3 linked regions of the Homo sapiens genome follow. The protein of the gene in region 3 purifies or fractionates together with the protein of the main gene of each other region. This does not show direct contact. Each region holds a gene or a part of one and is shown on either strand. Other genes may lie near its edges. The genes, in order: HSPBAP1, SLX4 and SDE2.

Evidence for each region.
Region 1: the proteins of SDE2 (region 3) and HSPBAP1 purify together in Homo sapiens (affinity purification with mass spectrometry; one large-scale study listed by BioGRID and IntAct). This does not show direct contact.
Region 2: the proteins of SDE2 (region 3) and SLX4 purify together in Homo sapiens (co-immunoprecipitation; one large-scale study listed by IntAct). This does not show direct contact.

The regions. Positions count from the first base shown.
Region 1 is NC_000003.12:122,745,235-122,748,886, forward strand, and holds part of HSPBAP1 (HSPB1-associated protein 1), read right to left. Parts: intron 1-3,652. UniProt on the Homo sapiens protein: May play a role in cellular stress response.
Region 2 is NC_000016.10:3,584,138-3,587,752, forward strand, and holds part of SLX4 (structure-specific endonuclease subunit SLX4), read right to left. Parts: intron 3,532-3,615; exon of another isoform or gene 2,799-3,531; intron 735-2,798; coding exon 632-734; intron 1-631. UniProt on the Homo sapiens protein: Regulatory subunit that interacts with and increases the activity of different structure-specific endonucleases.
Region 3 is NC_000001.11:225,992,823-225,996,474, reverse strand, and holds part of SDE2 (splicing regulator SDE2), read left to right. Parts: intron 1-1,091; coding exon 1,092-1,209; intron 1,210-3,472; coding exon 3,473-3,584; intron 3,585-3,652. UniProt on the Homo sapiens protein: Inhibits translesion DNA synthesis by preventing monoubiquitination of PCNA, this is necessary to counteract damage due to ultraviolet light-induced replication stress.

The sequences.
Region 1 (3,652 bases), on a different chromosome or scaffold from region 3:
TCAGGTAATCTGAGAGATACCTGAAAACCCCAGAAAGTCAATATAAAACTACCACAAAATAAAATAATTCAAATTAACACAAAAATCAATAGCTATCATATACACTAATAATATCCAGTTAGAAGACAGAATGGAAGAGAAGACCTTACCCTAGCAGCAAAAAAAGATGAAATATGGCAGTCCGCCCTTATCTGCAGTTTCGCTTTCCACAGTTTCAGTTACCCGTGGGCAATCTCAGTCAGAAAATATTAAGTGAAAAATTCCAGAATTAAACAATTTATAAGCTTTAAGTTTCATGCAATTCTGAGTAGTGTGATGAAATCTCTCACCATTCCACTCCACACAGTATACATCACCTGCCTCTGAGTCACTCAGTAGTTAGCTCAGTGATCAGATCACTGTCATGGTATTTGCAGTGCCTATATTCAAGGAACCCTTATTTTACTTAATAATAGCCCCAAAGTACAAGAGTTGTGATGCTGGCAATTTGGATATGCCAAAGACAAGGCATAAAGTGCTTCCTTTAAGTGAAAAGGTGAAAGTTCTCGACTTAATAAGGAGAAGGAAAACCAGCATGCTGAGGTTACTAAGGTCTATGGTAAGAAGAAATCTTCTATCTACAAAACTGTCAAGAGAAAAAATTATGGTAGTTTTGCTATCACACCTCAAACTGCAAAAGCTGCAGCCACAGTGCATAAGTGCTTAGTTAAAATGGATTAAGTTTGCATCTTAGCTAAGACATTACATTTGTAGGTGGAAGGCATGAACAGAAAAGTGTTGACTGATTACAATCGGGTTTGGTAATACTCGGGGTTTCAGTAATCCACTGGGGATCTTGGAATATATCCCCCGAGGATAAGGAGATACTACTGTATTTAGGAATAAACATTTAAAAGAAATGTGCAAAGCTTATGTGAGGAAAACTTTAAAACACAGCTGTAAAAACAAAAACAAACAAAACTGAACTTGGATACATGGAAAGGCACCTAATTTGTGGACAGAACAATTCAACATCATAAAGCTCAGATAAAATTTAATATGGATCAAAAAAAAAATCAAAAGGTTTTTTTTTTTTTTCCTAAAGCTAGACAAGCTGATTTTAAAGAACACATTAAAAAAACAGAGGCAAGAATAGCCAGAAAAACCCTGCAAAACAAAGCAATGGTCAGTCCTACTGATGTTAAAACATAAGACCTCACTAAATAAATAGGCAGAAAGACCAATGGACAAAATAGACCCAGATATGTTCAGGTATCTAGTATATGATTAAACAGACATTTCAAATCATGAAGGGAAAACAAACTGTAAAATAAATGATGGTCCTGACAATCCTATTACCATTTTGGAAAAGATAAAATTAGATCTCAGCTCTCTCCTCTCTCCTCTCTCCTCTCTCTCTCCTCTCCCCTCTCCCCTCTCCCCACGGTCTCCCTCTCCCTCTCTTTCCACGGTCTCCCTCTGATGCCGAGCCGAAGCTGGACTGTACTGCTGCCATCTCGGCTCACTGCAACCTCCCTGCCTGATTCTCCTGCCTCGGCCTGCCGAGTGCCTGCGATTGCAGGCGCGCGCCGCCACGCCTGGCTGGTTTTCGTATTTTTTTGGTGGAGATGGGGTTTCACTGTGTTGGCCGTGCTGGTCTCCAGCTCCTAACCGCGAGTGATCTGCCAGCCTCGGCCTCCCGAGGTGCTGGGATTGCAGACGGAGTCTCGTTCACTCAGTGCTCAATGGTGCCCAGGCTGGAGTGCAGTGGCGTGATCTCGGCTCGCTACAACCTCCACCTCCCAGCCGCCTGCCTTGGCCTCCCAAAGTGCCGAGATTGCAGCCTCTGCCCGGCCGCCACCCCATCTGGGAAGTGAGGAGCATCTCTGCCTGGCCGCCTATCGTCTGGGATGTGAGGAGCCCCTCTGCCCGGCTGCCCAGTCTGGAAAGTGAGGAGCATCTCTGCCCGGCCGCCATCCCATCTAGGAAGTGAGGAGTGCCTCTTCCCGGCTGCCATCCCATCTAGGAAGTGAGGAGCGTCTCTGCCCGGCCGCCCATCGTCTGAGATGTGGGGAGCGCCTCTGCCCGGCCGCGACCCCATCTAGGAAGTGAGGAGCGTCTCTGCCCGGCCGCCCCGTCTGAGAAGTGAGGAGACCCTCCGCCTGGCAACCGCCCCATCTGAGAAATGAGGAGCCCCTCCGCCCGGCAACCACACCGTCTGGGAAGTGAGGAGCGTCTCCGCCCGGCCAGCCGCCCTGTCTGGGAGGGAGGTCGGGGGGGTCAGCCCCCCTCCCGGCCAGCCGCCCCGTCTCGGAGGGAGGTGGGGGTCAGCCCCCTGCCCGGCCAGCCGCCCCGTCCGGGAGGGAGGTGGGGGGTCAGCGCCCCGCCCGGCCAGCCGCCCCATCTGGGAGGGAGGTGGGGGGGTCAGCCCCCCGCCCGGCCAGCCGCCCCGTCCGGGAGGTGAGGGGCGCCTCTGCCCAGCCGCCCCTACTGGGAAGTGAGGAGCCCCTCTGCCCGGCCAGCCGCCCCGTCCCGGAGGGAGGTGGGGGGGTCAGCCCCCCGCCCGGCCAGCCGCCCCGTCCGGGAGGTGAGGGGCGCCTCTGCCCAGCCGCCCCTACTGGGAAGTGAGGAGCCCCTGTGCCCGGCCGCCACCCCGTCTGGGAGGTGTACCCAACAGCTCATTGAGAACGGGCCATGATGACAATGGCGGTTTTGTGGAATAGAAAGGGGGGAACGGTGGGGAAAAGATTGAGAAATCGGATGGTTGCCGTGTCTGTGTAGAAAGAAGTAGACATGGGAAACTTTTCATTTTGTTCTGTACTAAGAAAAATTCTTCGGCCTTGGGATCCTGTTGATCTGTGACTTTACCCCCAACCCTGTGCTCTCTGAAACATGTGCTGTGTCCACTCAGGGTTAAATGGATTAAGGGTGGTGCAAGATGTGCTTTGTTAAACAGACGCTTGAAGGCAGCGTGCTCGTTGAGAGTCATCACCACTCCCTAATCTCAAGTACCCAGGGACACAAACACTGCGGAAGGCCGCAGGGTCCTCTGCCTAGGAAAACCAGAGACCTTTGTTCACTTGTTTATCTGCTGACCTTCCCTCCACTATTGTCCTATGACCCTGCCAAATCCCCCTCTGTGAGAAACACCCAAGAATGATCAATTAAAAAAAAAAAAAGAAAAAAAAATTAGATCTCAAACTTATACTATATCCTAGTGAAAAACTTCCAAATGGATAAGAGATCGAAATGCAAAAAACATGAAACAATCTAAATTCTAACACAAAACATTGGTGAATTCCTTTATGACCTGGAAAGGGTCATATGACCTTGGTTTCTAATTATGACTCAAAAACAATAAAGTTCAACAACAGATTTTGTTGGTGAGGCTGTGGAGGAAACAAGCACTTTCACATACTACTAATGGAAATGCAAAATGGCACAATCACAATGAAGCTGAATTTGGCAAAACCTAACAAAATTAAAGATACATTTACCCTATGACATGGCAAATCCATTGTTAAGATCTCCCCCAAAGACACACTTCAACAAATATAAAACAACATATGCACAAGGTTATTCAGTGGCATTATTTGTAATTACAAAAGACTGGAAACAACCCAAACATCTATCCTTAAAGGAACTAATGAACAGTAGAGCACCCATACAGTGA
Region 2 (3,615 bases), on a different chromosome or scaffold from region 3:
CTCCGCCGGGCACAGTGGCTCACGCCTGTAATCCCAGCATTTTGGGAAGCCGAGGCGGGTGGATCACGTGGTCAGGAGTTCGAGACCAGCCTGGCCAACATGGTGAAACCCCGTCTCTACTAAAAATACAACAATTAGCCTGGTGTGGTGGCGTGTGCCTGTAGTCCCAGCTACTCGGGAGGCTGAGTCAGGAGAATCGCTTGAACCCGGGAGGTGGAGGTTGCAGTGAGCCGGGACTGCGCCACTGCACTCCAGCCTGGGCGACAGAGCAAGACTCTGTCTTTCAAAAAAAAAATCAGACCTCCTCACTCAGACTGCTCTGGCTAGGGGGCCATTTCCATCTACATGGAATATGGGGACCTGCTGCCCAGGGGTGACATGCACGAATCCTGTGTGTTGCCTCCCTGGGGAATGGTACGCAGAGAGAACTGGGAGGCTCACCCCGGCACCCAGCAGTCACACATGCTCCCTAAGGAGCTGACTGCAGACCTTTCTTCCCAAGCCCAGGCCAGCTGCATCCACCAGACCCAGAGACCACACGGGGGGCCCTTCCGCCCCCAGGTGTGTGAAACCCAGTTACTTATGGGAGGGAAAAGACCACTGTGGGCAACAAGCTTTGAAGACCGCCAACCTATCCAGTTCCTTCTTCAGCACCGGCGTCTCCATAATGGAATACTGTGGCATCGGCGTTATGGGCACTTTGGGGGGCAAGTTCTTCTTCCGATTAGCACCTTCTGGGTAAAACAAAAGAAGCACACGTTTTAGCATGAGGGACACGGATTTCCCACATCTGATCCCAGTAGCGTGACCAAGAGGAATAATGCACTTGAAGATAACCCAAGCATCGTTTTGCTCCATGAAAGCAACAGTGGTCACCCCTTCCCTGTCTGGAGCAGGGGCTTCCCAATGATAGCATCGGTGACACGCACTGAGGACCACACCTTGTATAACACGGGTGCCGGGTGAACAGAGCTCCTGGGGCCACTGAACCCAACAGCCCGGCACGTGACTAAAACTTATGCATGTAAACTTAAAAATATCTGACCCACAGTGACAACTTGAGACAATGGGCCACACTGATACTCTTCAAACAGGCTTAGACATCAGTTTTGCTTTTTAAAAATAATTCATCAATTTAAAAAAACCCAGTTAAAAAATGGGCAAAGGGGCCGGGCGCGGTGGCTCACGCCTGTAATCCCAGCACTTTGGGAGGCCGAGGTGGGCGGATCACGAGGTCAGGAGATCGAGACCATCCTGGCTAACACGGTGAAACCCCGTCTCTATTAAAAATACAAAAAATTAGCTGGGCGTGGTGGCGGGCGCCTGTAGTCCCAGCTGCTTGGGAGGCTGAGGCAGGAGAATGGCGTGAACCTGGGAGGCGGAGCTTGCAGTGAGCCGAGATCACACCACTGCACTCCAGCCTGGGCGACAGAGCAAGACTCTGTCTCAAAAAAAAAAAAAAAAAAGGGCAAAGGATGTGAACAGACATTTCTCCAGAGAAGATCTACAAATGGCCAATAAGCACATGAAAAGGTGCCCGACATCATTAGTCATCAGGGAAATGCAAGTCAAAACCACAGTGAGATACCACTGCACGCCCACTAGGATGGCCATAACAAAAAACACAGAGGGTTTGGGCAAAATGGCAGAACCCTATCTCTACAAAAAAAAAAAAAAAAAAATACAAAAAAAGTTAGCAGGGTGTGGTGGCCCAAGTCACCAATGTGGGCAGCTGTTTGTGGCTGGTTCCAGCTACTCGGGAGGCTGAGGTGGGAGGATCACCTGAGCCAGGAAGGTTGAGGCTGCAGCAAGCCATGAACACGCCACTGCACTCCAGCCTGGGCGACAGAGCAAGACCTTGTCTCAAAACAATAACAACAACAACAAAAACAGAATAACAAGTGTTGGTGGAGATTTAAAATGGTGCAGTCACTTTGGAAAACAGTCTCGCAGTTCCTCACAATGCTAAACACAGTTGCCATATGACCCAGCAATTCCACTCCTAAGTACAGAACCAAGAAGAAGGAAAACATGTCTACACGAAAACTTGCACATCAATATTCCTAAGTGGCATTATTAATAACCACAAATTAAAAACAACCCGTGTGTCCACTAGTAGATGAATGGATAAGCAAAATGTGGCATACCATCAGTGGGGTATTAGACATACAAAGGAATGTATGCCCAAAGCCAGGGCAACATAGCAAGACCCAGTCTCTACTAAAAAAAAAAAATTAGCTGGGCATGGTGGCAGCTGCCTGTAGTCCCAGCTACTCAGGAGGTTGAGGTGGGAGGATCACTTGAGCCTGGGAGGTCGAGGCTACAATGAGCTGTAATTGCGCCACTGCACTTCAGCCTGGGTGACAGAGCAAGACCCCTGACTCAAAAACAGGCCAGGCACAGTGGCTCAGGCTTGTAATCCCAGCACTGTGGGAGACCAAAGTGGGTGGATCACTTGAGGTTAGGAGTTCGAGACCAGCTTGGCCAACATGGTGAAACCCCATCTGTACTAAAAATACAAAAAAATTAGCCGGGCATGGCATGGCGATGGGCGCTTGTAATCCCAGCTACTCGGGAGGCTGAGGCGGGAGAATCGCTTGGACCCAGGAGGTGGAGGTTGCAGTGAGCCGAGATCGTGCCACTGCACTCTAGCCTGGGCAACAGAGAGAGGCTCCGTCTCAAAAAAAAAAAAAAAGAATAAAAAGGAATAAAATACTGATCCATGCTACAACATGTATGAATCTTGAAAACTGTATGCTAACTGAAAGAAGCCAGACACAGACACAAAAGGCCACATATTAGTTATATATGGCTCTGTTTATATGAAATGTCCAGGACAGGCAAATCCATAGAGACAGAAAGGTTCTTGGTTGCCAGGGCTGGGGGAAGGGGAAGGTGAGAGACTGCTCATGGGTACAGGATTTTTGAGATGATGAAAATGTTCTAGAATTAGAGAGTGGGGACAATTGTACAACACTGTGAATGTACTGAGAAGCACTGAACTGTCCATTTTAAAAGGGTGGATATTATGGTATGTGAATTATATCTAAATAAAGCTGTTACTTTAAAAAATAATAGGCTGGGCGAGGTGGCTCACGCCTGTAATCCCAGCACTTTGGGAGGCCGAGGTGGGCGGATCACCTGAGGTCAGCAGCTCAAGACCAGCCTGATCAACATGGTGAAACCCGACTCTACTAAAAATACAAAAATTAGCTGGGCGTGGTGCTGGGTGCCTGTAATCCCAGCTACTCGGGAGGCTGAGGCAGGAGAATCCCTTGAACCCGAGAGGTGGAGGTTGCAGTGAGCCGAGATAGCCCCACTGCACTCCAGCCTGGTGACACATTGGAAACAGTCAGACTTTGGTTCTTCTGCCTTTTATGACCATGGAGCCCTTTGAGCCCCCGATGAAAGCGGCAGGCTCTGTCTCCTGAGAAAAGCACGATTCTTCCTGTGGCCGCAGCGTCGTCCTGAAGCCCACCTCAGATCTGCTGTGCAGCCTCCTGCAGCTGTTCTCACAGCACTGCCTGGGAACTGGTTAGAAATGCAAATTCTTAGTCACCCTCCCGAAGCAAGGCTCTGGGGCAGGCTGGGCCACGGGCGTGCTATAAGAAGCTC
Region 3 (3,652 bases):
GTTGATCAGTTGTTTTGTTTAATAAGCCATTCTGTTTGGAAATGAAGTATACATCATTTTCATGGTGTATACTTTCTGCCTTCATATTAATATCTTTTAAAATTATTTAGAAATACCATACCCATTAGACATACAAAAGGCTTCTAATGTGTAAACATTAAACAGATACAAAATGTATTACATATCTCATTTAATGTTTACAACAGCTCTTTGAGGTAGACAGTATTTTAAAGACAAGAATAGTCGTTCATGTTACCTCATTGCAGATAGCCTGAGCTCCCTTGCTCCTCTCTCCCGCCATTATATTTGTCTGGGAGAACCCCAGACAGCATAAATCCATCTCTCCACCTGTTCTGCCCTGGCATCTGGGCAGTGACTGTGATAGAGAACTATAATCACATAGCTCAGTCTCCATACATCCACCAGCCTGGTGCTGCTTGGTAATTCTGTATTTCCTTGGTCCAGAGTGGGCTTTTACTGGGTTACAGGACTGCTTAGAGTATTGATTCATGTAGGCTCTGGGGCAGCTACACAGAATCTGGGGCTGCCCAGCATCTTAGGCTATCTTCAGCAACTTTGCTCATTTTTGCTCATTTTTCATGTATTTATGTCTCCTATGGTGTACTTATATAGGTGTATTAAAAACCACACTCTTGACTCCTTCCTTCTCTACTTCTTATTCCTACCTGCACTTTTTAGGATTGAGGACTACTTTTGATGTTCAATTTAATTTTACCTGTTTAAGAAAGTCAGAAAATGGGACCTCCACAGTTATTTAATCTGAGTCCTGCATAGTCTTCTACCTTGACTCAGATTACCTATCAGAGAAGAAGAAGCAGTTTTTGTTGTCACCGCAAAGACTGAAGTTTCTTCTATATGTGATGATTAGGTAATATTGGGAAAAAATTATACCCAAAATGCATCATGTGAAATGACTTTTTCTCCTAGTAGTTTACATTTTCAATTCAACAAATATTAATTGAACACCCTCTGTTGTAACCAGAGTAATAAAAAGACAGCTAGGTCCCTTCTTGTAACAAACTTAGATTATTATCTCATAAAAGGCATTAAAAAAACAAATTTGTCTCTAGAATGTTCCAGTGGAAAACTTCTTTGTGAAATGCAATGGAGCACTCATTAACACCAGTGACACAGTGCAGCATGGAGCTGTTTATAGTTTGGAACCCAGACTTTGCGGTGGAAAAGGAGGTAGGACCTGAACATTGACTACTTAGTTGTAACACATTTGCAGTCTTTATTCATTTATTTTCATATTCTGCTGCTGACATTTGCTGTCTTTAGCCATGGTATTAAATTAACAACCTTCTTAGTCTCTTTAGTATGCCAATATTGTTTTACCTTATGAATTCTTTTATTTACTTAACCTGATTTTGGACATTTTCTCTCTTATTCTTTTGTTTTCTTTCTTTTGAGACACTGCCTTGTTTTGTCGCCCAGGCTGGAGTACAGTGGTACGATCACGGCTCACTGCAGCTTTGACCTCCTGAACTCAAGCAATACTCCCACCTCAGTTTCCCCAGTAGCTGGGACTATAGGCACATGCCACCATGCGCAGCTAATTTTTGTATTTTTTGTAGAGATGGGGTTTCGCCATGTTGCCCAGGCTGTCTTTTATTTTGGTCGAGGAAGAAATATTGTGTGATACAATTCCCACTTTGTTCAGCTGGATAGCTCTTAGGGAACCTAGGCTCTAAAACTTTGGGGGAAAATTAGATGAAGAGAGATGGCCATTATTCTGTTCAATTTGCTGAATAAAGAGTTTTTTTTCTAAATCTCCTTCTGCTTTAATCAGGATTTTGTCTCGTTTTTGTAGTTCCAAAGGAAGTCTAAAGTTACCTTAGGAAACACAATTGTTTATAAGTTGAGGCAGATTAAGGTTTTGTTTGTTTAACACAACTACTAGGAAAGATAACAAAGAGCGAAAACAATATAAACAGTTGTTGGTATTTCTCCTAATGTAGTAACATGTGATCCCTAAGCTTTCTCAAAATCTACAGTGATTTGGTTTGGTTTTCAGAGAGCTGACATCTCAGACTATATCCAGCTGTTTGAAATTGTATGATTAAGAATGAAGCGTGGGCTGGGCACGGTGGCTCACGCCTGTAATCCCAGCACTTTGGGAGGCCAAGGCGGGCGGATCACCTAGGTCAGGAGTTCGAGACCAGGCTAGCCAACATGGCAAAACCCCGTCTCTACTAGAGATATAAAAATTAGCCAGGTGTGGTGTTAGGAGCCTGTAATCTCAGCTACTTGGGAGGCTGAGGCAGGAGAATCACTTGAACCTTGGAGGTGGAGGCTGCAGTGAGCCGAGATTGTGCCACTGCACTACAGCCTGGGCGACACAGTGAGACTCTCTCAAAAAAAAAAAAAAAGAATGAAGCATGTGGCCAGGCATGGTGGCTCATGCCTGTAATCCCAACACTTTGAGAGTCCAAGGTGGGAGGACAGTTTGAACCCAGGAGTTTGAGACTAGCCTGGGCAAGATGGTGAGACCTTGGTCTCTACAAAAAAAAAAAAATAGCTAGCTGCATCGGTACACGCCTGTAATCCTAGCAACTTGGGAGGCTGTGGTAAGAGGATCCATTGAGCCCAGGAGTTCAAGGCTGCAGTGAGCTTTGATTACATCAAGCCATTGCCCTCTAGCCTGGATGACAGAGCAAGGCCCCATCTCTTAGGGGGGATAAAAAGAATGAATGAATGAAGCATGTTATATCAGCCAGTGGAGCTTAAAATTGCCTTTCCTTCTAAACTCATTGAAAAATCTCACTATATACTTTTTAAGTTCTTAATCTGAGAATCTTGGGATCTCTGTGATTGTGTAAAGCTTCTTTTTTTTTTTTTTGAGACAGAGCCTGGCTCTGTTTCCCAGGCTGGAGTGCAGTGGCACGAGCTCAGCTCACTGCAAGCTCTGCCTCCTGGGTTCACGCCATTCTCCTGCCTCAGCCTCCTGAGTAGCTGGGACTACAGGCGCCCGCCACCACGCCTGGCTAATTTTTTGTATTTTTTAGTAGAGACGGGGTTTCACTGTGTTAGCCAGGATGGTCTTGATCTCCTGACCTCATGATCTGCCCGCCTCAGCCTCCCAAAGTGCTGGGATTACAGGCGTGAGCCACTGCACCTGGCCTGGGTAAAGCTTTTTAAATATTCTAGCTGTACAGGTATTATACCGGTATGCAAATAACTAACACAAGGATAAATAATTAGGTTTGGGAAGGCTAGGTATTTTATCTCAGAACTATAAAATGAAAGGTGAAAGGCATGAGGTTAAATCAGTCTTTTTACTTTCGCTGCCTGAATTAGAACCTTGATGTTCATCTTTTCTTAAAAAAAAAAAAAAAGAAAGAAAGTAGAGATCATTGTTAATCTTGTGATACAGATTGTTTTCACAAATTCTGCTTTTATCCATCCTTGAACACATTTTAACCTGCTTTCTCCAAATACATCTGCTCAGGTTTTGGATCTATGCTCCGAGCACTTGGTGCTCAGATTGAGAAGACAACCAATCGAGAAGCTTGTCGGGATCTCAGTGGAAGGAGACTACGCGATGTCAATCATGAAAAAGCGTAAGATGCCCACCTTTTTTTGTGTTTTTGAGGAGAGACATATACTTTCCTATTAGTAGTGATTATAC